Linked DNA regions of Homo sapiens. The protein of the gene in region 2 interacts with the protein of the main gene of each other region in a biochemical or structural test. Each region holds a gene or a part of one and is shown on either strand. Other genes may lie near its edges.

Region 1 (7,835 bases), on a different chromosome or scaffold from region 2:
TCTCGAGCAAAAGCTGGGTCAGTCTCTAGGACCCGGCTTTTCCGCAGAAAATCTAGCAGGTTCCCGTAGGGGGCATATTCAATAGCGATATACAAGTAACCTGAGAGGCAAAGAGACAGACAGTGGTGATTTAGACACAGGCAACCTAGGGTGGGAGCAGGCACCCGATGGTAACAGACAGGGATGAAGGAGGATCAAGGGTGGTGCACAGGTCACCAGCAGCCCCTGGCAAGCTACTCATGTGGTGGAGGTGATGGCTGAGGATGGGGGTTTGGAAGAAGGGGTAGGTGATGAGCTGGGGGCTCACCTCGGTTCTTACAGGCCCCCAGGAGGTTGATGATGTTGGGGTGATGCCCCAATTTGCACAGAACTTCCAGTTCTCCCGCAAAGTCACGATGGTCATTTTCAGAGGCATACTCTGTGTAAAGAATCCAATATTATTTTGCCAGAAATAACTCTGGAGAAAGGGCTGGCAAGGGCTGGGGTCAATTGCTGGAGGAAGCCAGGTGGGGCCTGGGATTTGTGGGACAAAGGAGAGCATCAGGGCTGGGCCAGGGGTCGCCCCAGTGGACCTTTCAGCATTTTGATGGCTGCGTTCATCTTCAGCCCGTCCTTCTTGATCATGGCCCGGATGACCTGGCCGAAGTTCCCCTCCCCGATGAGGTCCTCAAAGGTGATGTCCTCCCACTCTAGCACTGGGTAGCTCAGGGGCTCGGGCTGCAGTTTTGGCCGCCGGGTAAGTGTCAAGGTCCCTGAGCTGAACTGCAGGATGGTCTCCTCGCCCTTCACAGGATGAGACAAGAGGGCAGACGGTCCACGCAAGAGTCAAAGGGGGCGGAAGGAGGCACAGACAGGCACACGAGGAGGTTTCAGTGTCAGACAAGTGGGCAGAGACCCAGATGGAGGGCACCCTGGTGGTCAGCCAGGGACAGACAGGCAGACAGAGGACATAACTGAGACAGAATCATAGGTAACAGAGCCACAGGTAGGCTGCTGGGTGGACAGATGTCCAAGGAGAGAAATGCAGAGGCTGCAGCCAGGGGATCTAGTGTACGGGACTCTGGAAGGCAGAACCAGGGCTTGTGGGTAAAGTTGCTAGAAGCCACAATGTGAGTCAATGGAAGGAGGATATTTCTAACATTTAAAACAGAAAAGGATCGGAATGAGCTTCCTATGACTGTGCTAATCCTACAACCAGGCTTTTTGTTGTTGTTGTTGTTGGGGGTCACCAGGGAAGCTCTGGAGAAGATTCCAGCCTTAGGGAGTAGGCCAGGGGACATTTATTGAGCACCTACTACATGCTCAGCCCTGAGCTGCTGGGAGCCAGTGGAGGGGTTTTCTCCACAGTAGCAGAAGCAGAGATTACCCTGTCCACACACTTGGCTTTTCTCCATAGCTCTAAAATCAGGCCAGGACCTGAAAATAGCAAGACTATAACAAAGAGGAATGTCCAATTTCCTAACTCAGTAGGAGGAGGCCATCTGGGTGGGGCTGATGGTGGGAAAAGGAAATAAGTGAACAGGACCAAAGAAACTGCCAATATGAGAACTGGAAGCAGGGTTAAGACAGACCTTCTGGTGGGGCTTCCTAAGTGCACTGAAGTCCAGCTTGATGGGCAAGGGCTGAGGACCTGGGGCCCAGGGATTTGCAAGAAGCACTGGTGCTGACGGCACATAGCAAATGCACGTGATGTTCTTGGGCAGCACCATATGTAGGTGCATCATGTATAGGTCCATACACACATGCAGGCCTGAAGGTGCACAGGCATAGGGACACGTGCATCTGGGACACACGCATTTAAACATGTGGCACTCACAGGGGATGCACGTGTGCACTCATACATGGAGCACACACATTTGTGCACACACGTTTCCTATCCATATGCAGGCACATGTACCAGGGATATATCTTTTTGTTTGTTTTGAGACAAGGTCTCGCTCTGTTGCCCAGGCGGAAGGGCAATGGCACGATCTCAGCTCATTGTTACCTCGAGCTTTTGGGCACAGGCAATCCTCCCACCTCAGCCTCCCGAGTAGTTGGGACCACAGGTGCACACCTCCACGCCCATCTAATTTTCATATTTTCTTTTATTGTAGAGATGGGGTTTTGCCATGTTGCCCAGGCTAGGGGGATATATCTTGATATAGAGTATGACACCATGTATGTTAAGGACTGCTTTCCCACCTCCTGCCCTCGACATCTGTACCCATTACCCTCCCCCACCACAGCAGTGAGGGCTTTCTGTGTGCACTGACCTCAGAGGAAGAGCCAACACAGCTTGGAACAAAGAAGCCAATTGAATCTCTGAATGGATTTTTTTTTTTGAGATGGAGTCTCACTCACTCTGTCATCCAGGCTGGAGTGCAGTGGCGTGATATTGGCTCACTGCAACCTCTGCCATCCGGGTTCAAGCAGTTCTCCTGCCTCAGCCTCCCTAGTAGCTGGGATTACAGGCTCCTGCCACTGTGCCTGGCTAATTTTTGTAGCTTTAGTAGAGATGGGGTTTCACCAACTGGGCAGGCTGGTCTTGAACTCCTGACCTCATGATCCACCCGCCTCAGCCTCCCAAAGTGCTGGGATTACAGGCATGAGCCACCACGCCCGGCCTCTGAATGGATTTTTCAAAGGCATAGCAGAGACACTAGGCTTTCTATCACAAGGATCAGCCCTTGAGAGAGAAGAGGGTTTTCTTTCTTTTTTTATTTTTTATTTGAAATGCCAAAGCTTAGCTCTAAATATCAAGAGTCCAGGCCTGGAAGGCCAAGGACAGAGTTCAGATCCTAAGTGACGACAATGAAGAAGCCCTCAGAGGAGACAGGACCTGCGGATGGGCGGCTAGAATGTGACAGGATAAAGTGACAGTGGGTGCCCTCCCACACCCCACCTCTAAGCAGGGGCCTGAGGGACAGAAGGGTGTGGGCTACAGGAGGACAGACAACTCGGGCAGGATTACAGGGAAGCCAGGAGGAGTGGAGGTTTGTGCTTCCTCTTTCAAGGAGCAGGCCAGCACAATTCTGGAGTGGTAGAAACAGTTGTCTAAGTGGGAAGGGGTTGTGGCAGCGGTCTGAGGGCCACAGAATATGCCTCCTTCCATAAGGTATAAGGAAGCCCCTACAGTTCTTTAGTTCTGTTTCTTTTTCTTTTTTAATTTTTTGAGACAGGGTCTTGCTCTATTGCCCAGGCTGGAGTGCAGTGGCAACATCTCGGCTCACTGCAACCTCCGCCTCCCGGGTTTAAGCAATTCTCCTGCCTCAGCCTCCCGAGTAGCTGGGATTACAGGCATGCACCACCACGCCTGGCTAATTTTTGTATTTTTAGTAGAGACAAGGTTTCACCATGTTGGCCAGGCTGGTCTCAAACTCCTGACCTCAGGCGATCCACCCGCCTCAGCCTCCCAAAATGCTAGGATTACAGGTGCAAGTCACTGTGCCCAGCCCCTTTCTTAAGTCTCCAAAAGGAGGCCCTGGGATTTGCAAGAATGAAGGTTAGGATGAGGAGCTCACAGCATGACTGGCCTACTGGCAGGTGGCCACAGCAGGGCTAAGAACATCAGCCAAAGATGTGTGCAGACAGAGGCTGGCTCCCGAGCCCAGGAAGGCCTGCAAGGACAAAAGCCAGCATGAACCCCAAGTGCCCTTCCATTTGATCACCTTGCTATCTAGGCCTAGATAACCGCTAGGGAGAAATAAAAGAGGGGAGAGGAAAATCTCCAATTGACGGAGCCCAAAACTGGAATGTCCATTGTGAAATATGGTCATCACGGAATTCTTTTGAAATGGGAATATTAAATATTTCACCACTAATATAAATGGGCTCATGAGCTGAATTCAGTTTTAGAGAAATAAAGAAAATTATATTTTGTACCCTTGAACATTGTTGAGTGTAATCTTATACCTGCAACATAAACACACACACACACACACACACAAGGTGTACAAGGTATTGTGTGTACACAGGTAGAAACATAAACACGGGCTGCAAGCATGCACCCAGGGGCGGGGCGGGTCACTGACCGAGCCTGACTGGTAGGTGAAGGTGCGTCTCCGATGCAGGCAGCTTCTGCGGATGCACACCAGGGTTAAAAGGGCAGCCAGGATGGTGAGGCAGGTGGCAGACACGGAGCCCACCACCGCCAGGATCAGCTGCTGATCCAGGCCCTCTTCAGCTGCCCGGCTCTCTTGGACTGGGCCCTCAGCCTGCAGCCCTGGACACAGTGAGAGGGGCAGATTGTGGGGACACCTGGGTCAGGGAACCCAGAGGCCACCATGGGGTTACACAGAGGGAGAGGTGAAAGATCCCAGTGCCAGGACTGTCAGGAAATCACTTGGGCCACATGAAGGAAGGGATGAGGGGTGTCAGAGGGGCGACATGATTTTCCCAGCCCTGGGACAGTGGATCATGAGAATGGAAGGCTGAGTCCCCAGGACTGGGGCTGACTCTTTGTCAGGAGGGGCCTGGGATGCCCTAGCTCCACAGTAGGGGGTGATGTGGAAGGAGAGCGTGCTGAGCTCTCCCCGCTCAGAGCCCGGGGGGTCCTGTGGGCCCTGCCCTCTCACCGTTGCCCAGGGTGGACTCTTCTACTGTGTTGCTCCAGTCCCCGAGCCCCTGAATGCTGGCCCGCATGCGGAAGAGGTAGCGCGTGCTGGCGTTGAGGCCACGGATGATGGTGCTTGTCTCCTCAGGCCTGTCCACGTCTATCCACAGTGGGTCTCCTGCACCCCCAGCCACCTGCACCTCCACAACGTACTTGGATATTGGCCCAGGCAGAGCCTCCGGGTGCTTCCATGTCAGCTGGATCTCGGAGTCTGAGAGGGCCTGGGCGTGGAGGTGTCGGGGGGCTGGAGGCCCTGGGGAGATGGTGGGGGAAGGCAAGGCTCAGATAGGACCGGGCTATGTAGCTGTGGGGCTGGACACATCTGCTCTAGCTGTGCTCCCTCCTCTGTGGGTCCAAGCACAGGGGCCACCCTGCCAACTTCCTCCTCCCCACCAGACTGAATTCCTCTCCATTCCCCCAGGCCACTTTCACCCTCAAGCTTCTGCTTCTCCTTGTACTTCTTGTATCCCAAGTCCTCTCCACATCCGCCCATGCCCTGTGTTCCGCAAGTCTCATGCCCTCCCATGACCCTGGTTCTCGCCATGAACCCTGACCTCCCCATGCTCTCCCCACATGCTCCTGGTGATCTGTGTCCTCCTGGTACCCTGGATCTTCCCCAAGTCCCATGTCCCCGCTGGGGTCACGTCTGCCTAATACCCTATGTGTGTCCTGTGTCCTCTCCATGTCCATTAATCTCCTACAGCCTCCCGTGTCTCCTAGGTCTCATGTGTCCCTGTGTCCCACGTCCTCCCCCAACCCCCAGCTATCCTTGCGCCTTGCACATACCACTGGGGGGCAGAAGCACGTGTGCAGGGGGCGAGGCCGGGCCCAGGAGGGTGCAGTGGTAGAGCTGCACATCCAGCTGGTAGTGGGTGCCAGGCGTGAGTCCCGTCAGGAGGGCAGTGCGGGCCTGGGGGGATGAGACGTTCTCCCGCCGCTCCTGCCCCCGTGTCCCGTCCCACAGGCGCAGCAGGAAACCGTCGCCCACCAGTGGCCCGGGCACCAAGGGCAAGGACCAGCTCACTCGCAGCCGGTCAGTGCCTTCCACATGCCAGCCCTCCAACCACGGCTGCAACAAAGGCTCTGGGGCCAGAGGTCAGGGGTCAGAACTGTCCAGTAGGTACTTGGGGCTGGACAGGACAATGATCCCCAGTGAACAAGGAAGAACAACCTCCAGTGGGAAAGGCAGGGGTCCCTGGGGTCGACGGGAAAGTAACCCTTGGGGGGACAGGAAGGGATGACTCTTGGCCTCTCACCAGGACAGTCTGTGGTCATGAGGGTGGGAGGCCCCCAGGCCCCCTCTCCTCCTTCCCCTGGCCGGCTCAGCTGCACACGAACACTGTATCCTGTCTTTGGCCTCAGGTTCATTAACGTCACGTTCTCACTGGGGTCCACTGGGCGTGGGGTGTAAAGCACACATTATTCAGCCCCCACCTCTTCTAGAAGCTGCCATGCTCCCTTCAGCCCCCTCGCACCATTTGCCCTCCCTCTCCTGCTCACTGTATCCCTTCACTATTACCCAACACCTCTGTCCTGCCCCAGCTCTCTCCCTACTCACCCACAATGGTCGACCAGTCCATGGTACTGTCCTGGGGCCGGTAGTGCAGGCGGACAGTGGAGATGGGTCCATCCCCAGAGAACGAGACCAGCGGGGAGACCACAAGCTGGCGGCTCTGCTTGGTCAGGAGCCGAGGTGCAGCCAGGGGCACGGGGGGCACTGCCAGGAGACTCAGGGTAAGGCATGGGCACACAGCCTATCCAGTCCACTTCTGCATCTTTGTTTCAAGCTGGGGACCCTCTGGGCTTGAGGGACACCAAGTTCAACAGATGACCATAGTGGCCAGGGCCCAGGGAGGACAGAGTTCAGGCCCCTGGGTAGCTTGGGGCACAAGGATTAAGCAATAAAGGCATGAGGGTGTCCCAAAAGATGGTAGATGAGGAAGTGACATGGCCAGACATGGTTTGGGGGTGCACTCTTCCCATGCAGTGTGGGGGTAGACAGAAGGGGCCGAAACCCAGGTCAGGGAGACTACCTGGGCATCATCCTGCTCTCTGCCCCTGCCCTCATTCACCACTCTCTTATTAAAAAAAAAAAATGGCACTGGCACTGAAGCACCTGCTCCCCGCCACACGCTTCATAGCATGACCTCTAATTCTCACAGCCACCTTTCTGTCAGGGCACATTACCCTGCATTATGAAAACACTGAGACTCAGAGACACCGAATAACTTGCCTAAGGACACACAACTAGAAGGAGATACAGCCATGTGTTGAACTAGGTCTGTCTGCGCAGGCCGCCTCAGATCTATCCATTCTACTCCAAAACAGCCTTCTTGTTCCTGCCCCACTTCCTCACCCCATGATCGCTGCTCCTATTCTGGCCTCAACTTTTTCTCTCCAGATTATTGCATTAGTGCTTTTAACAGGTTCCCTTGACTCTTACAAATGTTTACCAGATTGGCTTTTTGAGAGGAAAGGAAGGAAGGAAAGAGGGAGGGAGCGAGGGAGGAAAAGGATGCCGCGCTGTAAGCTGAGGGAGTGTCAGGCAGCAATGAGCATGTCAGGAGGGCAGTGCTGATTTGCGGGGAGATGAAGGTCCATTTTGGGTGCAGAGAAGCCCTTGGTGCCTTTGGCTCACGCAGGGGATTAGATGTCCAGGAAGTGGCTGGATATAAAATGGGCCTCCGAATCATACAGCAGCTACTTTCCACACCAACTTCAAAACCAGACTTCCAGAGTAGATGCCCCACTTCATGGAGTCCCCACCAAATGATCTGGAGTCAGAAGAGGGGTCCTGGCTGCAGATCATATGTGAGAGCTGCCAGAGAACTATCAAAATCTAGGGACTAGGTGACATTTTAAATAATAACAATAATTATCGACATACATTGAGCACACACCCTGTATCGGGCACTGTGCTAAATGCTTAAATACATCATCAAATTTAATCTTTGTAACAACCCCATCAAGTGCTAGCTATCCCCATTTCACAAAGAGAGAAACAAAGTAAGAGAGGTTAAGTAGTTTCCTTAAGGTGATGGGGCAAGGAATTTGTGGAGAGAGGATTCAAGCCCAGGTTGTCTGGCTCCTAAGCCTGGGCACAGTGAGAAGAGAAAGGCGGAAGGTGAGGCTTGATGGCAGAGAGTCATGCATAGTCACGGGATAGGGAGATGGCGAGGACCTGGGAGGCAGAGTGTGGCAACGAGAAAGCAGAAGGTGAGAGAGGGGGCTTACATGGGGT
Region 2 (8,671 bases):
TTAAGTTAATAGCATAAAAGACAACAAAATAATGAACTGTAAGGAACAAACTGTTCCCAAGATCTGAAAATAATTACCTGCAAAATGACTTTATAATGGAATATGTTCACTAAAATTGTGTCCTTTTAATATTAAGGCAGAAAAATTTTTATATAGTTTTCTTTTAACATTTAAAAATAGTACAGTGAAATTTATTTCCAACTGGTAAATTCTACTTTTTTATTTATAATAATATAACACAATGGTTTTTAAACTGTGCTGTACTAATGTTTGAGATAATAGCAAGAGGAAATATTATACTACCTTCCCACAACCATTTCAAAATAGATCAGCTTTACGTGTTTCATACATTATGATCCTTTGTAAGAATTTTGGAGAGAATAGGTATTCCATTAAAAAACCAAAAACAAAACCTTAACAAGTGATTAAGCTTAGCCCAATCAATAATGGAACAAATTAATCTTTTGTGCCTTTGGATGTGATAGAATGGGAAATAGACAATATCATTTATTTAGTATTCTTCTCAAGAAAGCTTTAATCTGAATCTAATCAGAAAGAAATAGTCAGATAAGCCCAGAAAGAGCTGTTCTGGGAAAAGCTGACCCAAAGTCTTGAAAAATGTAATTGATAGATGAGTGGTAGACTGTTTCAGGTAAAAGGCGACTCAAGAGACATGACTGCAAATGCAATGAGTGAAGCTGGATGGGATCCTGAATCCAAGTAAATAAACAACTATCAACCAGCCAAGGACATTGTTGGAGACAATAGTGGTGATTTCGATATAGAATATATAATTAAAAATTGTTTATTGACTCAATAATATATTTCTTGGGCATGATAAAAATTTAATTTAAAAAGTCTGTTTGCTCTTTTCTTTTCTTTTTTTTTTTTTTAAAGACAGGGTCATGTTTTGTCAGCCAGGCTTGAATGCAGCAGTGCAATCACAGCTCACTGCAACCTCAACCTCCTGGGCTCAAGCAATCCTTCTGCCTCAGCCTCCTAAGTAGCTGGGACAATGGGTGTGCAACACCACGCCAAGTGAATGTTTGTTTTTTTAATTTTTAATAGAGACAAAGTTCTCGCTATGTTGCCCAGGCTGATGTCAAACTCCTGACCTCAAGCAGTCCTCCCACTTTGGCCTCCCTAAGTGGTGGAATTACAGGTGTGAACCACTGTACCCAGTCTCTAAACAGCTTTCGTATTAGCATGATATTTAAGTTTACCAAATACAAGGTATATATGTACACTCTTTTTGATTCGAGGATATTATTCCCACTGAAAGATAAGAAAACTGAGGCATAAAAGTAATATCAACTTGGTTAATCTGGGTACTCCATTTCCCTGAATCCCCTTCATTGTAAGGTTCTAAGCTGGGGTTGGCTAAAAGAGAATTTTGTGTGAGATTTGGAAGGCGAAAGTGAAGCAGTGGCCTGACTCTGAGAACGTCATCAGATATGGTGAAGTCCAGGGGCAGAGATGCCTGACAGTTTCTACATTGTGTATTTCTTCACTTAGCACCCAGCTTGTCTTCCTGATGCTGGCAACAGCTCCAGACCCACCACAAGATGCTTGACTGCACAACCTCATTTAATGGAACTACAGCAAGGCAACAAATTTCTGTAGATCTTCCCTTTTGTGGTTCCACTTTGGTGGCTACACGTGTTTGGTTTCTTAGATTTTCACAAGCTCTGGCTTGTCTGCCATGCCAAATTTCAAGCATATGTTTTAACCTTATTTCCGTAAGACTCATCATGGCTCTGCTCCCCTGACTGAACACTGACAAATACAACCATGCCAGTTTCCCAGGTGGTAGAGCCAGATTTCTTCTCAGCCTCCACATCCTGATTCCGACTCCAGAGCTCCTTCCAGTGGACATAGCATCTCCTCAACCCTACAATAAATCTGCTATTATTAAAATATTTTTAAAGCATTTATTGTTGCAGTGGTGGTTGTGTATTTGTTTTTTTAAACTGATAATAAACTCTCAAGTGTTTATTAGAGAGATCAAATTTAATTTTTTATCAAAGAATTGAAAGGTAATAAAAATAGTGATGCACAGGTAAAGGTAGTTCTATTGTAGAAAATTTTTGAGCTACAAGGTGCTTTACAAATACTTTAACTTGTAAGAATAGAAAATTGAGAACTGGAAAGATAGGTAATGTGTCCAAAGGCATTCAAATTATTAAAGAGAGAAGTAGGGTTAGAATAAACATATACTATATCTTAGAGTATGTGTTTTGGGTTTATTTAATTCTAGAAATTAACTGATGAACTTCTTTATTTGAGGATGCCCATATGGTGGGTAGTTATAAGACCAAATTTCAAATCGGACTCCTACTCATCGTTATCAGTGCCTGTGACCTTGTGCAAAGTACTATGCCTCAGTTTTCTCTTGTGAAAACAAGACATCTGGTGTATAGTATGTGTGCCTCAAATATAGCTAGCTTAGTCAGTAATTTGGCTAAATTAGTTACATATCTTGAATTTTTCCAAAATGGGTTCTACACTTTAAAAGCTTAGAACACACACACATACACACACACGTGTACACACACACACACACTCAAAGGAAGGGGGGGGGAGAGAGAGAGCACAAGTTAAAGATAGTTAACAGTCACTCATTAATGACTTATAACAGGATTTGGATCCTGGATAGTTATCCAGAGTGCTACGGGTCAATGGGAGCACAGAGTATCCAAATTGGCCTAAGAATGAGGGTGATGCATTTCTCTGGGAAATCAGTGTAGGGAGGTTGAGAAGGGAGAGGTCCCAGGATCCGTGGCAGAGTGAAGCATGCAGAACTCAGCAAAGGGAGATTCAGGGCTCACATGCTGTCATGGTGAAGACTTCAACTAATCTGAAGTGGAATTTTGGATTCTGAGGGGCTCTTCAGAATTGCCCCAAATTGGGGCAAGAGGGTCTTCATATTCTTATATTGACCAGTCATTAGATACAATGTATCTTGCAAGAAGTAATCTTGGGTGATGTTACTTTCTTTCTTTTTTTATTTTTTTTTTTGAGATGGCGTTTCACTCTTGTCGCCCTGACTGGAGTGTAATGGCGCAATCTCGGCTCACTACAACCTCCACCTCCGGGGTTCAAGTGATTCTCTTGTCTCAGCGTCCCGAGCAGCTGGGATTATAGGCATGTGCTACCACGCCCGGCTAATTTTTCTTTAACTACAAACAGTGCCTGGAAAGGGGACTTCAGCTGCAACCTGTCAGTCAACATTTCCCGGAAGTGGAAGAAAGAAGCGCTTTAGTATTGAAGGAGGCAATGGGTTGACACGTTACATCTACCACAGTAGGTATCAGGGAAGACTTGGAATAAGAGAGAATCTTAAAGATTTAAGATGTATCCATGTGACAAAGTTAAGTTTATGTGTTGAGTGAGTAAGAATATAGCATAAACAAAGGCATGGAGGATTTAGGGCAATCGCAAATAGTTACCAGAACATAACCGTTAATGAGAAGGGTATCCAGGTAGGTAAAGTTAGGGAGAGTGTATGGCAGCAATAGGTGCATAATTAGGTAGTGGCCAGGTCACGAAGAGTCTTAGTGGTAGACTTTTACCTGCAGATATTTGAACACTGTTGAAATATATGAAGGAGGGAAAGACCAAGTTGTCTGTTAGAAAAATCATCTCAACAACAGCATGGAAGATATATATGAGAGTATGAAGACTAAAGAGGCAGGAAGGTTCTATAATTGCCTGGGTGTTAGATGATGAGGATCTGGATAATACTACCTCTCTAGAGGAAGTATTAAATAATTTCACATTGATACATGTTAGTTCATATGCTATGCTTATCATGACACTCTTACATTATTATTTTTTCTTATTTATATTCTCTTGGGTTCTACAGATTTTATTTTCTATCTGAGAAAATTATTTGGAGTTTCCTTAGAGGATAAAAGAAAAATATGTGTAATACATGCACATTTATAAGCTCATCTATCCATTCACAACACTTTCTTTTAATTAATATGTCAAGAGCATGATAAATGTTTTTTTAAAAAACAACACCACAGTTAGGTTTAAACATTAGGACCACACCTGTTACAAGAATTTTCAAACAAAATTTCCATGATAGAATATGTTTTAGAAAATAAAACCTCAAACAATTCTGAATTTAATTTAATTTAATTTAATTTTTGAGAAAAGTTATAGAAAACAAAAAATATAAAACAAAAACCTAGTATGAATTTCATAGTTTTATATTTCAGTCGGAATTTAGTTGAATTTGACCAAGTCAACTGACCAAAACCTCAGTTTTCTTATTTTTTAAATGTGTCTAGGCCCAGAGCAGTGGCTCACTCCTGTAATCCCAGCACTTTGGGAGGCTGAGGCGTGCGGATCACGAGATCAGGAGATCGAGTCCATCCTGGCTAACACGGTGAAACTCCGTCTCTACTAAAAATACAAAAAATTAGCCAGGCATGGTGGCAGGCACCTGTAGTCCCAGCTACTAGAGAGGCTGAGGCGGGAGAATTGCTTGAACCGGTGAGGCGGAGGTTGCAGTGAGCCGAGATCGCGCCATTGCACTCCAGCCTGGGCGATAAGAGTGAGACTCCGTCTCAAAAAAACAATGTGTCTAATAATACCTACCTCCAAAAGAGGTTTATATGCTTGTAGTGTTAAAAATCATTTCATAGGTTATGGAATACTGTGCAAATCTTAGTATTAATACTTGAAACAATTGATCACAAAGACACACGCCAATTCAGAGGGACGAGACATGAATGGACAAAAAGCACATGAGGCAGTGATGGACAATGTGAGTTCTAACTGCAGGCCACGGGAGGCATTAATGGGCCTAGAGAAGCAGTACTGGGCATACGTGATGATACAGGCAGGGAGAAAAGTTGCAAGGGCTTAGCTTCTGTTTTCAGGCTTCTGTTCCATTTTTCTTTGAAAAAGCGAATAACACCATCTTATAGTGTGTTTACTTTAATGAATCTTTCACCAGAGTAAGCATTATGTTTTAATGAGTTCTCATTTCCCATTTCATGTCAACGTGAATCGTATACTTGAATTGCATGAGAAAATGATGACTGCACATCTACTTTCTGTTAGGTCCCTGCAGGAAAGAGGCCAGAACCACTAACTTCATGTCAGCAGCATGACAGAACAGAAACCACATTGAATGAGGCAGGAGTTAGACATCCCTTATTTAAGTCTTTCTCCCTTTTTGGGCAAAATTATATATATGAGGCTCATATGTATATATATGTGTGTATGTGTGTGTGTGTGTGTGCGTGTGTACACATGCATATGCATGTGTGTGAGGCTTGAAGAGTTCATATATATTATATATCATATATTATATTATATATATATTACATATATGAACCATATATATATATATATATATATATATATATATATATATATATGAGCCTCAGCTTTCCTTCCCATAAAACCAGAGGTTTGAAATTAAATTGTTACATTTCTTCTGGCTTTATAATTTTGATTCTCAAGGTTCACAGTTCTATCAAGAAAGAAAAATGGGGATATCAGAGTGTATGCATCACCCTAGCAGGGAAGACTTACTTTTTGATCATAGATCCCTACTGTGTGGTGAGAATACAAAATCACACAGATGTCAAAGAAATGAGAAATGCTCAAAAGGGCAGTGGGGCACTCTAAGAGGAGGTGAGTACTCCTTCCTCATGCAGATGGCAGAATGGCATACACATCATACACTCCGAAGTGCACCACAGATGCCAACAATCCTCCTAACCCTGCCCCAACACTCTGTCCCGCAACACCCTCCAAGCCTGACACACATGCATATGCATGTGTATGCACACACACACACACACATGCAGCCACCTATGAAAAACTGAGAGACATTTTGGAAAGGAACCAAAGCAAATTCTTCAGGAGCCTAGGAAAAGACTAGACTAATTATTTGCTAGTCCTATTGTCAGGCTGTCTGACATTAGCCAAGTTTCATATAGTTTCAAGTTTCAGGTCAAAACATTTACATAAGAGTATCCCTGATGTTTAACAGTGGTTTTCTTGTTATAAAACTTTCAAAATATTGACCTCCTTGGAAACATTTCTTCTTACACTCCATTGCATTTTATAAATGTCTCTTCTTTGGTTTCTTGAGCTGCCATTAAGTACACCCTCGCTTCCCCTCCACCCCCACCATGAGACTATCAACTCTTTTAGATCTATTTCTCATTCTCTGTTGTGGTGACATCATTACTATTTGTCGAGAAAATGATTATTATGTCTCCAAGGATCCAACCCCATACATAATCCATTAAAATGAAATGAGTTGTGCCTATGAAAATATGCAGAATTCAAACTTTTAAAAAATTAAAAAAAAAAGGTTTGTCTTGAAAAGACAAATAAGCAGCAGAAACAGTTGAACTATGAGATAACCACACAGGTTGAAACAAAACACACGCAAGGGTTGGGTTGCTATTGTTGCAATTACTTGAAGCAATGTGCCCACCCTTTAATTCATACAATCATATTTTCAAGACAGAGGTAGAGCAGTCACAATATTGAGAGTTAAAAATCATTACAACTCTAATTTACTAAGAATGAAACTGAGGCACACACAATTAAAGACCTGCTAGGCATCAAGAATTGCATTAATGAGTAGCAGTAGAAGAGTAACTAAAATATCTTCCCTGTTCCCAAGGAATGCCAGCCAGTTTTTAGTGACCTAGTTAGTAACAAAGCTTGACTTTGACGTCTGTAAGACCAGCGCCCAGTAGAATTCCAGGAACACAGAAGTAACACAATAAGTGTTCGTGCAATGAATCCACCACATCACATTATTTCCTTAGCCATATTTTTGTGTGTTTATTTTTCCCTAGTAGACGAGCTTCTCATTGAAAAAGGATAATTGGAAACATGTATCATTAAGTGTATAGTTTATCTATTTTTACATCTGCAATCATGTATTATGTATATTGATGCCATTATTACAATTTATTTTTGCTTTTTAGATTTACCAAGAAAACCCTCTAAATCATGCCTCATCTTCTCTTTTATGTAAATCATTCAAACATAAAAAAATTTTACTTTTGTCATCTTCAAGATCATTTGAAAAATGCTAATTCAAGAAAGGTCATCAAAAAAAGTAGAACCAGAAAATCTTTTTTTAGAATAAAGAGATTATTTAAGCCAATGAGTTTGAGTATGAAACTTATCAGTTTTATATATATGAATTCACTGCAACTGCATGATAACCACAGAACAACAGTATGCTTGACTTCATTCACCATTCCCTAAAATTTAAGCCAATATCAAAGATAGTCAACCTACGAAAACTGAAATTTAAATCTTTGAAAAAGTCTTTACAGGCTTTTTTGTACCTCTTTGTAATAGGTCTAGACAAAAAAAAAAGAATTTTCATTTTGAAGGATGATTTTCATTTCTTTTTTTCATATTTTCCCACTACAATTATTAAGTGGCTAGGTAAAAGGTAGTCGAACACTACACTGTAGCATGACTTACCTATAGTTTTGCTTTTCATTTCCTATGTGGAATCTGTCATACTGTGAATAGGCTCGGTTCCCTTCCCAGTCCATTAACTCAATTCTTAGCATGTACTGCCTCTGACTGGTAATGGCAAAAATAAACTCATTCCCCAGCCAATATTCACCGGAGGGATTTCCAAAACCCTGGGAAACAATATAGAGATGCAGTTGTTACTTTAGAGAGGAATTCTTTTCATGTTCAGCATTTAACTATTTTCTAAATAATAATTAAAAATTATTAAAAAGTAAAGGTTTTTGTTTTTTACATTTTACACTTTTTCTCCAGTGATTGACATTTCAATAATTCTGTGTCTCTTCATCAAAGCTTCTGTCTAATTCTTACTTAGTACAATAAAACCTCTGTTATTCAAATCTGTGTGGATGAGACATTTTGTATAAAATAAATCTAGTTAATAGGTTTAACTGGAAAACAATTCTCAATTCAAGGTTTGCTTTTGAAAATGTTTCTAAATTACTAGTTAACAAAATATTTTGAATAGAGTTTAAAGATTTTTCAATGAACACTATGAGAGTGATATTAGACAAGTTATTTAACAATATTATTTTTACTATTATTATTCACAAATGCAATTATGTTTCAACAATAACTTCATATTTAGGTTGGTGCAAAAGTAATTGCAGTTTTTGCCATTACTTTCAATGGTAAAAACCATAATTACTTTTGCACCAAACTAATAGATTACTAGAACCATGACTTTTGGAGCTTTAACTTTCTTATTTTTAAATATTAATAAGCAACCCTGTAAATCCATGACTGTAATTATTTACAAAGCTGCACTGGCATTGGAATTTTGAGGCAGAAGGCTGATTTGTAAGTGCTCCTGAGTGAACCTAGCTGACTGCTTGGCTTCTGAATGTCAACATGACTTTATTGTTCTCTTTGGGGGAAGTCAAGGTTGTTAAGTATTCAAAATAGTTTCTTTGTAGGGAGAAAAAAGTGGTCCCAAAAGAAAGCCAGCGCTTAATGTTGGAGATGTTAGTGATAGGAAAAGAAAGAACCCCTAGAAACTTGCTGGCATTCTAGATTTGGAGTATTCACAATTGCCTCAGAAAATACTCATTGGCAGTGCTTGAAGTTCAATGTAATTCTTGATCTACATATTTGTTTCACTGGCCATGTTGTGAGCTCCCTGATGATAGAAACT
Region 3 (8,807 bases), on a different chromosome or scaffold from region 2:
AGTCTCTGGCCAGGGAGTATGGGCAAGTGTCTGCAGGCAAGGAAGAAATCTTGGAGCCCAACAAGAGAGACTGGGTTTATTCCGCTCATTTCTGGTTGTGTGACCTTGAATACATCTCATCCTCCCTGGGCCTCACTTTCATCATCTGCAAAATGGGGGTAACAGTCCCCACTTCACAGGGTAGCTCCGGGAATGAAGTGACTGGAAGATGCCCTGCAGGGAGCCTGAGGCGCACCAGGCACTCCGTGTGCAGGCTCTCCGCTGCCCACCGCTGTTGGTATTGTGCAGGTAGCGGGGTCGGCAGTCCATGGCCGGGCCCCTCACCCTGGCTTGCCAGGGCTACTCTGCTGGATGTGGGTCCCGGACTCGGCAATTCAAGTTCTCGCCTTAATTTTAAAAATCAGTTGCTAATGGTTAACATAAAAGCGAATCTGGTCAAGTATTAAACAAATAAATCCGGTGAGATTCGAACAAATGCCAACGGCAAGAACAGAAAAATTAAACAGCAAGCCGCCTGTATATGTGTTTAAGAAAATGTAGTCGCACATCCAGGGCCTCGCCGGCTCGGGAAGGGACCGCTTCGGAAACCTCCCGGGCCACCTCTGCCTGGGAAATGCCACAAACTGCTGAGAAAGTCCCGTGAGTGTTCTGATACTTCGGTTGGAAATTTAAATGTCGGAGTTTGGAGGGCGGGGACGTTCTCTAAGCTAATTAGGTGACCTGGAGCTCTCATGGAGACCCAGGAAAGACCAATGTCTCATAGCTCCCTGAGAAATCTTCTTCCTCCCGGCGGTGCTCACGTGGAGTCCTCGCCCACAATGGACCGACGCTTTCGCAGCCCAGCCCGGGTCCTCCCAGGGGCCCGGCCAGCGATGCATCTGAGGTGACAGGTGGGGGACCCTGCACCTCTCTCTGAAAACTGAACCCCAGCCCAGGCATCGCTCCGAGCTCTCAACCCAGGCATCCGAGTGGAAAGTGGCAAGCCCGGGTCCCCCAGCCTTGGTGCTGCCTCCCCTGCGCGCGGGACAGGGGAGAGAGGAAGGAGGGATGCTGGCCTGGAGAGAGGCAGGAGGGACACTGACCTGGAGAGAGGCGGGAGGGACACTGACCTGGAGAGAGGCGGGAGGGACACTGGCGTGGAGAGAGGCGCGCGGGACAGGGGAGAGAGGCGGGAGGGACACTGGCCTGGAGAGAGGCGGGAGGGACGCTGGCCTGGAGAGAGGCGGGAGGGACACTGGCGTGGAGAGAGGCGGGAGGGACACTGGCGTGGAGAGAGGCGGGAGGGACGCTGGCGTGGAGAGAGGCGGGAGGGACGCTGGCGTGGAGAGAGGCGGGAGGGACGCTGGCCTGGAGAGAGGCGGGAGGGACGCTGACCTGGAGAGAGGCGGGAGGGACGCTGGCCTGGAGAGAGGCGGGAGGGACACTGGCGTGGAGAGAGGCGGGAGGGACACTGGCATGGAGAGAGGCGCGCGGGACAGGGGAGAGAGGCGGGAGGGACACTGGCCTGGAGAGAGGCGGGAGGGACACTGGCGTGGAGAGAGGCGGGAGGGACACTGGCCTGGAGAGAGGCGGGAGGGACACTGGCCTGGAGAGAGGCGGGAGGGACACTGGCGTGGAGAGAGGCGGGAGGGACACTGACCTGGAGAGAGGCGGGAGGGACACTGGCGTGGAGAGAGGCGGGAGGGACGCTGGCCTGGAGAGAGGCGGGAGGGACGCTGACCTGGAGAGAGGCGGGAGGGACGCTGGCCTGGAGAGAGGCGGGAGGGACACTAGCCTGGAGAGAGGCGGGAGGGACACTGGCGTGGAGAGAGGCGGGAGGGACGCTGGCCTGGAGAGAGGCGGGAGGGACGCTGACCTGGAGAGAGGCGGGAGGGACGCTGGCCTGGAGAGAGGCGGGAGGGACACTAGCCTGGAGAGAGGCGGGAGGGACACTGACCTGGAGAGAGGCGTGAGGGACACTGGCCTGGAGAGAGGCGGGAGGGACACTGGCCTGGAGAGAGGCGGGAGGGACACTGACCTGGAGAGAGGCGGGAGGGACACTGGCGTGGAGAGAGGCGGGAGGGACGCTGGCCTGGAGAGAGGCGGGAGGGACGCTGACCTGGAGAGAGGCGGGAGGGACGCTGGCCTGGAGAGAGGCGGGAGGGACACTGACCTGGAGAGAGGCGTGAAGGACACTGGCCTGGAGAGAGGCGGGAGGGACACTGGCCTGGAGAGAGGCGGGAGGGACACTGGCGTGGAGAGAGGCGGGAGGGACACTGGCTGGCCTGGAGAGAGGCGGGAGGGACACTGGCCTGGAGAGAGGCGGGAGGGACGCTGACCTGGAGAGAGGCGGGAGGGACGCTGGCCTGGAGAGAGGCGGGAGGGACGCTGACCTGGAGAGAGGCGGGAGGGACGCTGGCCTGGAGAGAGGCGGGAGGGACGCTGGCCTGGAGAGAGGCGGGAGGGACACTGGCGTGGAGAGAGGCGCGCGGGACAGGGGACAGAGGCGGGAGGGACACTGACCTGGAGAGAGGCGGGAGGGACAGGGGAGAGAGGCGGGAGGGACAGGGGAGAGAGGCGGGAGGGACGCTGGCCTGGAGAGAGGCGGGAGGGACACTGGCCTGGAGAGAGGCGGGAGGGACACTGGCCTGGAGAGAGGCGGGAGGGACACTGACCTGGGAAGCCCGCGGCTCGGGGCAGGCGAGGATCAGGAGCAGAAGGAAGAGCGCGCGCGGAGAGCTGGGCACCATCTTGCCAGTCGGAATCCCGCTGCCTGGGAGGGGAAATAACTTTGCCTCCGCTGCCGAGTTTGTCCCAGCGATGCGGCAGCCGTCCCTGCAGGGTGCGGGGCGCCGCGCGGCCGGGGGGCGGCTGGGGCAGGGGGGGAGGCGGGAGGCCCCGAGCGCAGCGCGTCCCGCGGGGATCGGCGCCGCCCGGGCCTTGCGAGGGTCCAGGTGCGCCCGCAGCTGCCCGCACGAGACAGTCCGCGCGAGGCGGGGAGGCGCCGGCCCCTGGGCTAAGGACGAGGGAGGAGGGGCTGCCCGGCCGGGAATGCGCCCGGGAGCGCGCCCAACCCGCGACGCCGAGGACGAGCGCGGGCATCCTCGGGGCCTGGCAGGGATGGGCGGCCAGTGCCCCGCATATGTGCGGGTGACTGGAAGCCCACCCTGGGCGGGTTCACTCCCGACCGTCCTATTTCCCAACCAAGTAGACTGAGGCTCAGTCACCAAGGACAAGTGGCAGAACAGAAACCCAAACCCAGGTCTGTCCTACTTCAAAGCCCACGCGACACCCTCCTCCCGACATTCCTAGAAGGGGGCCAGGAAATGGGCTTCATAAGCTTGACGTGGGGTGGACTGAGCTCTCCATCCGAATAAACTAGTGTCCCTTTAAATAATGCAATGGGGCCGTGAGAACACGCACGCACAGTGAGTAGATACACACACAGTGATACAGTGAGGGGATCTACGTCCTTCTGATTCACTGTCCTCCTTGCTCAAGGGAAGGAGAAACTCAGTTTAAATCGGAGGTCAGGTTCTAGAACATTGCCTGCCTTGCTGAAGTCGAATCAGGAAGTGCCAGGCCGGCATGAGCAGTCTGAAGTCCCCTGCCATCAGGGCTGTGGTACAACCAGATGCCTCAGACCTGAGCTCCCGGAAGGCATGACTGACGTTCTTCCTGGAAGGTTTTCTGAAGGCAGTCACTGCAGATGTCCTGGGACACACAAGTCTGGTCAAGCCCCAGATCTCTTTTTCCTCTTCCACATTTCACTTTGTTGAGCCCACTCAGAGCTCAGGGAACGGGGAGCCCACAAGACTGTGACCACAGAGCAGGAGCTGTTTCCCAGCAGAGGCCAGAAAGGAAAGCTGGAGTCCTGGCTTAGTCCCTTCAAACTGCTATAGCAAAATACCATAAACTGAGTGGCTTATAAACAATAGAACGTGTTTCTCACAGTTCTGGAGACTGGGAGGTCCAAGATCAAGGTGTCAATAGATTAGGTGTTTGGCGAGGGCCAGAGTTCTGGTTCCCGTGTCCTCACAGGGGAAAGGCAGCTCTCTGGGGCCTCTTTTCTGAGGGCACTAATCCCAATTTTGAGGGCTCTGCACTCATGACCTAGTCACCTCCCAAAGGTCCCACCTCCTAATGCCATCATCTTGGGAATGAGGTTTCCAACATATAAATTTAGGGGAGACACCAACATTCAGAACCTAGCCAGTGCCCCAAAAAGCAGGGGACATGGTTTAGGCTGGCCTCCTGGGCATTGGTTGCCCAGGAAATCCTACAGTGCTGCTCCCCCAACCTTCCCATGCAAAGGAGGTGGAACGGGACCCATGTAAATCTTTTTTTTCTTTGAGACGGCGTCTTGCTCTGTTGCCTAGGCTGGAGTGCAGTGGCCTGATCTCAGCTCACTGCAGCCTTGCCTCCCTGGTTCAAGTAATTCTCCTGCCTCAGCCTCCCAAGCAGCTGGGGCTACAGGCATGCACCACCACGCCTAGCTAATTTTTGTATTTTTAGTAGAGACAGGTTTTCACCATGTTGGCCAGGCTTGTCTTGAACTCCTGACCTCAAATGACCCACCCGCCTCAGCCTCCCAAAGTGCTGGGATTATAGGTGTGAGCCACTGCAGCCTGCAAGGGATCCATGTAATTTTATTTTGCATTCCTGGTTGAACATCCTGAAGAGAGACATGGTCATACCCCTGCTTCTCCCTATCCAGGTGGAGAGGACGGGACAGCATGGCCCGATCCAGGGCAGCCTGTGGAGATGGTGGTTTTCTGCCTCGATCTCTCATGTGTTTGCTGTCTGTACCAAAAGCCAGTGCCCTGCTCCCTCTCTGTCTCTCTGTCCTCTGCCCTATCCTTGAAAAGCTTCCTCCTGGTCAGTGTGGCTGCATTTATTAATATTTTGTGTCCTATCCCACCTTGTGTTTACATGGCGACCTTCTCTGGAAGGCCAGCTGTTCTGGCTCTCAGCCTTGTTCTGGCTATGCGCTGGTAACCAGACATCGGGCAGATGTAAGCAAGCCTTCTTTTCTCTTCTCCTGCCCTTTCTGTGGAGTCATAAAGCTGGAAGAGATTCTTGATTTCACAGATGAAGAAGCTGAATCGGGGCATGGTTGACTGACTTGCCCAAGGAATGCAAACTCTGGTCTCAAGATCCCCCTCCCAGAGCGGTGCTGTTTCTAGGACAGACTACCTTTGACTTTATCCCACCTCTCATTTTAGGGCTACTATGTTGCTTATATTAAATACATGATCATAGCATTTCAGGAATTTTATTTACAGTAATGGGGGGTTTTCTGTTTTTTTGTTGTTGTTGTTTTTTGTTTTCTTGGGTTTTTGCTTTTGTTTTTACTTTTCAAATATTTCTAAGTTTCAACAGGATTTTTTTTCCTATGTAATTATTTATATTTGTAACCCTTTCCCTATGGCTGCCTTCCCTCTAAGTGTTCTGGCATCTGGTCTGAATGAACCTTCTAAGATCTGACTGCCCCAGCAGCACTGTCCTTTCTCTGTCTTTGTCCTCAGCTGCCCTGGATCTGCAGTAATCAAGGCAGAGCCTATCAAGTCCAGAACCTACCAAGGCTGTCTACAAGCAGACAGCCCATGAAAATCAGCTGGGTGCTCTACCTTTAAGCCCCCAACCCTCACCTTTAACTGAATACAATGGGCCTATCAGCCTTTTTTTTTTTTTTTTTTGAGACAGTCTCACTCTATTGCCCAGGCTGGAGTGCAGTGGCATGATCTCAGCTCACTGTAACCTCTGCTGCCTCACAGAGGCAATCTATTCTCCTGCCTCAGCCTCTCAAGTAGCTGGGATTACAGGCACCTGCCACCATGCCCAGCTGATTTTTGTATTTTTAGTAGAGACGGGGTTTCACCATCTTGGCCAGGCTGGTCTTGAACTCCTGACCTCGTGATCCACCCGTCTCAGCCTCCCAAAGTGCTGGGATTACAGCCATGAGCCACCATGCCTGGCCCTTATCAGCTAGTTTATTCCTCTATTTCCCCTCTATTTAGTTTTCAAGAGAATATTCCTGAGTGTCGGGGGATTGGTTTGGTGGGGTTCAACATGTCTACAGAAAGTATTTTAAACATCTTTTGGTAAGATCAGTTGCCATCTCCTTGGATTAGTGCTCTGATACATTCAGGTTCTCTGTGTAACATAGGCATGCAACACAAAATGGGAAGATTTGTTGCAGAAATTTGTCTTTAAGACCCCAACAGAGGCCAGGTGCGGTGGTTCATGCCTGTAATCTCAGCACTTTGGGAGCTGAAACAGGCGGATCACTTGAGGTCAGGAGTTTGAGACCAGCCTGGCCAAGATGATGAAACCCTGTCTCTACTAAAAGTACAAAAATTAGCCGAGTGTGGTAGCAGGCACCTGTAATCCCAGCTACCTGGGAGGCTGAGGCAGGAGACTCACTTGAACATAGGAGGCGGAGGTTGCAATGACCTAAGATTGTGCCACTGCACTCTGGCCTGGGCAACAGAGTGAGACTCCATCTAAAAAAAAAAGAAAAAAAAAAGCTGGGTGTGGTGGCTCACACCTATAATCCCAGCATTTGGGAGGCTGAGGTGGGCGGATTGCGAGGTCAGGAGATCGAGACCATCCTAGCTATTATGGTGAAACCCCATCTGTACTAAAAATACAACAAATTAGCTGGGCATGGTGGTGGGCACCTGTAGTCCCAGCTACTCGGGAGGCTGAGGCAGGAGAATGGCATGAACCCGGGAGGCAGAGCTTGCAGTGAGCCAAGATTGCTACTGCACTCTAGCCTGGGCGACAGAGTGAGACTCTGTCTCAGAAAGACAAAAATAAATTAAATAAATAAACAGATGCTAGCAGAAGCAAGATCCAGTCTGAAATTATCCTTCCAGAGCTGTCCTGGGGGCTCCTCTGGGTCCCCAGTGGTGCCCCATACCATGTTGCATACCATTTTGGGTTCATGGACTTACTGATTCAGCTATGGCTGAGTCTTACTGTCAGCTCATTTGCAGCTGCTTCTCTCCCTTTTCATCCTTTACCCCACATTTCTCTGTGGTTCTAAATGTCATCAACCCCTACGAAGCACCTACAGAGGTCCCAGGAACAAAGTCCAGCATGTTAGCCTGACAGGATAATAGGGTAGAAACCGTGTAGGGAGAACGGTCTAGCAGAGGTGCAGTGACTTCATCCAATTCATTCACTACAAAAATATCTATCAAGTGCCAACTCCGGGCATGGCCCTGTACCAGGCACTACATTCTCACATTATATCTAGAGCTTTAGCCAACAGAACTGTGCAGTCCTGTGCTGAAAGGTGAAGAGACTGTCTACTTATGTATGATATCAGGACTGCCAGTAGAAACCGTTCCCCCTAGAAAAGCATTTCCAATTTTACAAGATGAAAGCCTGTAGAAAAGCAGATTTCACTGTGCTGTGATTAAAGACCAAACACCAGTTAACATCTGCCAAAAGGAGCAAGACATTGAACATCCACGAATGCCATTCCACATGCCTTTGGAAGCAGCAGAGATGGTGGATGCAGTCAGGCACACACAGCCTTTGAAGTCAGACGTGCCTCGGCCAAATCTTACCCCCTTCTTGCTGCCAGTGTGAACTTGTAACCTCTTAATCTTTACAGGCCTCAGCTTCTTGATTTATATATGAGAATACAAGTATTTATCAAAGAGATTATGAGATTTCAAAATAATAAAGTGCCTAACACAATGCTGAGCATAAAGTAAGTGCTCAGTTAAAGGGACATTGCTTATACTGATGGTCCTTCATACAGGGACAACATAAGAAGGAAACAAACATGTCTTGAGCACCTACTGTAAACCAGTCACAAATGCTCTCATTTGTTCTCATGACAACCCAGTGAAATGGGTCCCATTATTAATCTCATTTTACAGATTGTGAAACTGAGGCTTAGAATGCTTCAGTAGGTTGCCCAAGATCAAACTGAAATTGAGTAAATGCTAAGCAAAAAGAAAACCTGGATAAAAGGTGTAAGTGCTAATTTTGCAACTTTTAAGTCTAAAATTATCTTTAAATAAATGTGTGTATAATTTAATATTTTATTTCACCTTATGTCAGTTATACATTATAGTTTTCAAGGAATTCTTTAATTTTATCTAATTTGCCAAATGTAGTGGCATAAAATGGTATTATTCACTTATCTTTTTAATGGCTGTAGGATCTGTAGTGGTAGCCCTTCTTTTGTTCCTAATATTGATGATTTGTGCTCTTTCCCTTTCTTCTTAATTATTATAGCTAAACATTTATAAATTTTGTTTTTCTTCTCAAAGAGACAACTTTTTGCTTTGTTAATTTTCTCAAGTGTTTGTTTAAAATTTCATTGGTTTCTGCTCATATCTTTATTTGTTTCAATAGCACCTAGGATTTGTTTTAATCAGATGTGGTAAGATACATAGACATGAAAATAATTTCCATGAAGAAAGAAGTTTTTATTATACTCACAGTCTCCTAAGAACAAGAGGGATGGTATGTCATGCAGGATCACACAGGAAAATGCCCAGGTGAGATGAGCAGGCAGAGAGAGAGGAAAAGAGAGAAAGAGAGAGAGAGAGAGAGGAACTGTGGACAAGTGACTTTATTGTGGTTTTTGCAGGAAGGAACAATTGAAACAAGGTAAGCAAGCTAAGCAGGTTTAGGATTGGATAGTTTGAAGAGTTTGGATGGGCTCTAGGCTCTAGGGGTAGTCCCTAGTTGTCCAGCACCCAGCTTTGCGGTGTTTAGGGCAAAAGGATATCGTAGCAGATAAAAGGAAACAAGCAGGAGTATGAACTTGGGGTTATTTGGTTTGCATATAAAATGCATGC

Evidence for each region.
Region 1: the proteins of ANGPT1 (region 2) and TIE1 interact in a biophysical measurement, tested with the Homo sapiens proteins (2 studies listed by BioGRID and IntAct, with this or other methods).
Region 3: the proteins of ANGPT1 (region 2) and FBLN7 form a complex in vitro, tested with the Homo sapiens proteins (one study listed by BioGRID).

What each region holds. Positions count from the first base shown.
Region 1 is NC_000001.11:43,310,147-43,317,981, reverse strand, and holds part of TIE1 (tyrosine-protein kinase receptor Tie-1 isoform 1 precursor), read right to left. Parts: intron 6,312-7,835; coding exon 6,153-6,311; intron 5,989-6,152; coding exon 5,851-5,988; intron 5,678-5,850; coding exon 5,381-5,677; intron 4,848-5,380; coding exon 4,557-4,847; intron 4,205-4,556; coding exon 4,014-4,204; intron 3,600-4,013; coding exon of another isoform or gene 3,516-3,599; exon of another isoform or gene 2,683-3,515; intron 784-2,682; coding exon 573-783; intron 419-572; coding exon 308-418; intron 101-307; coding exon 1-100. UniProt on the Homo sapiens protein: Transmembrane tyrosine-protein kinase that may modulate TEK/TIE2 activity and contribute to the regulation of angiogenesis.
Region 2 is NC_000008.11:107,277,200-107,285,870, forward strand, and holds part of ANGPT1 (angiopoietin-1 isoform 1 precursor), read right to left. Parts: intron 7,650-8,671; coding exon 7,483-7,649; intron 1-7,482. UniProt on the Homo sapiens protein: Binds and activates TEK/TIE2 receptor by inducing its dimerization and tyrosine phosphorylation.
Region 3 is NC_000002.12:112,132,578-112,141,384, reverse strand, and holds the start of FBLN7 (fibulin-7 isoform 1 precursor), read right to left. Parts: upstream 3,001-8,807; 5' UTR 2,730-3,000; coding exon 2,655-2,729; intron 1-2,654. UniProt on the Homo sapiens protein: An adhesion molecule that interacts with extracellular matrix molecules in developing teeth and may play important roles in differentiation and maintenance of odontoblasts as well as in dentin formation.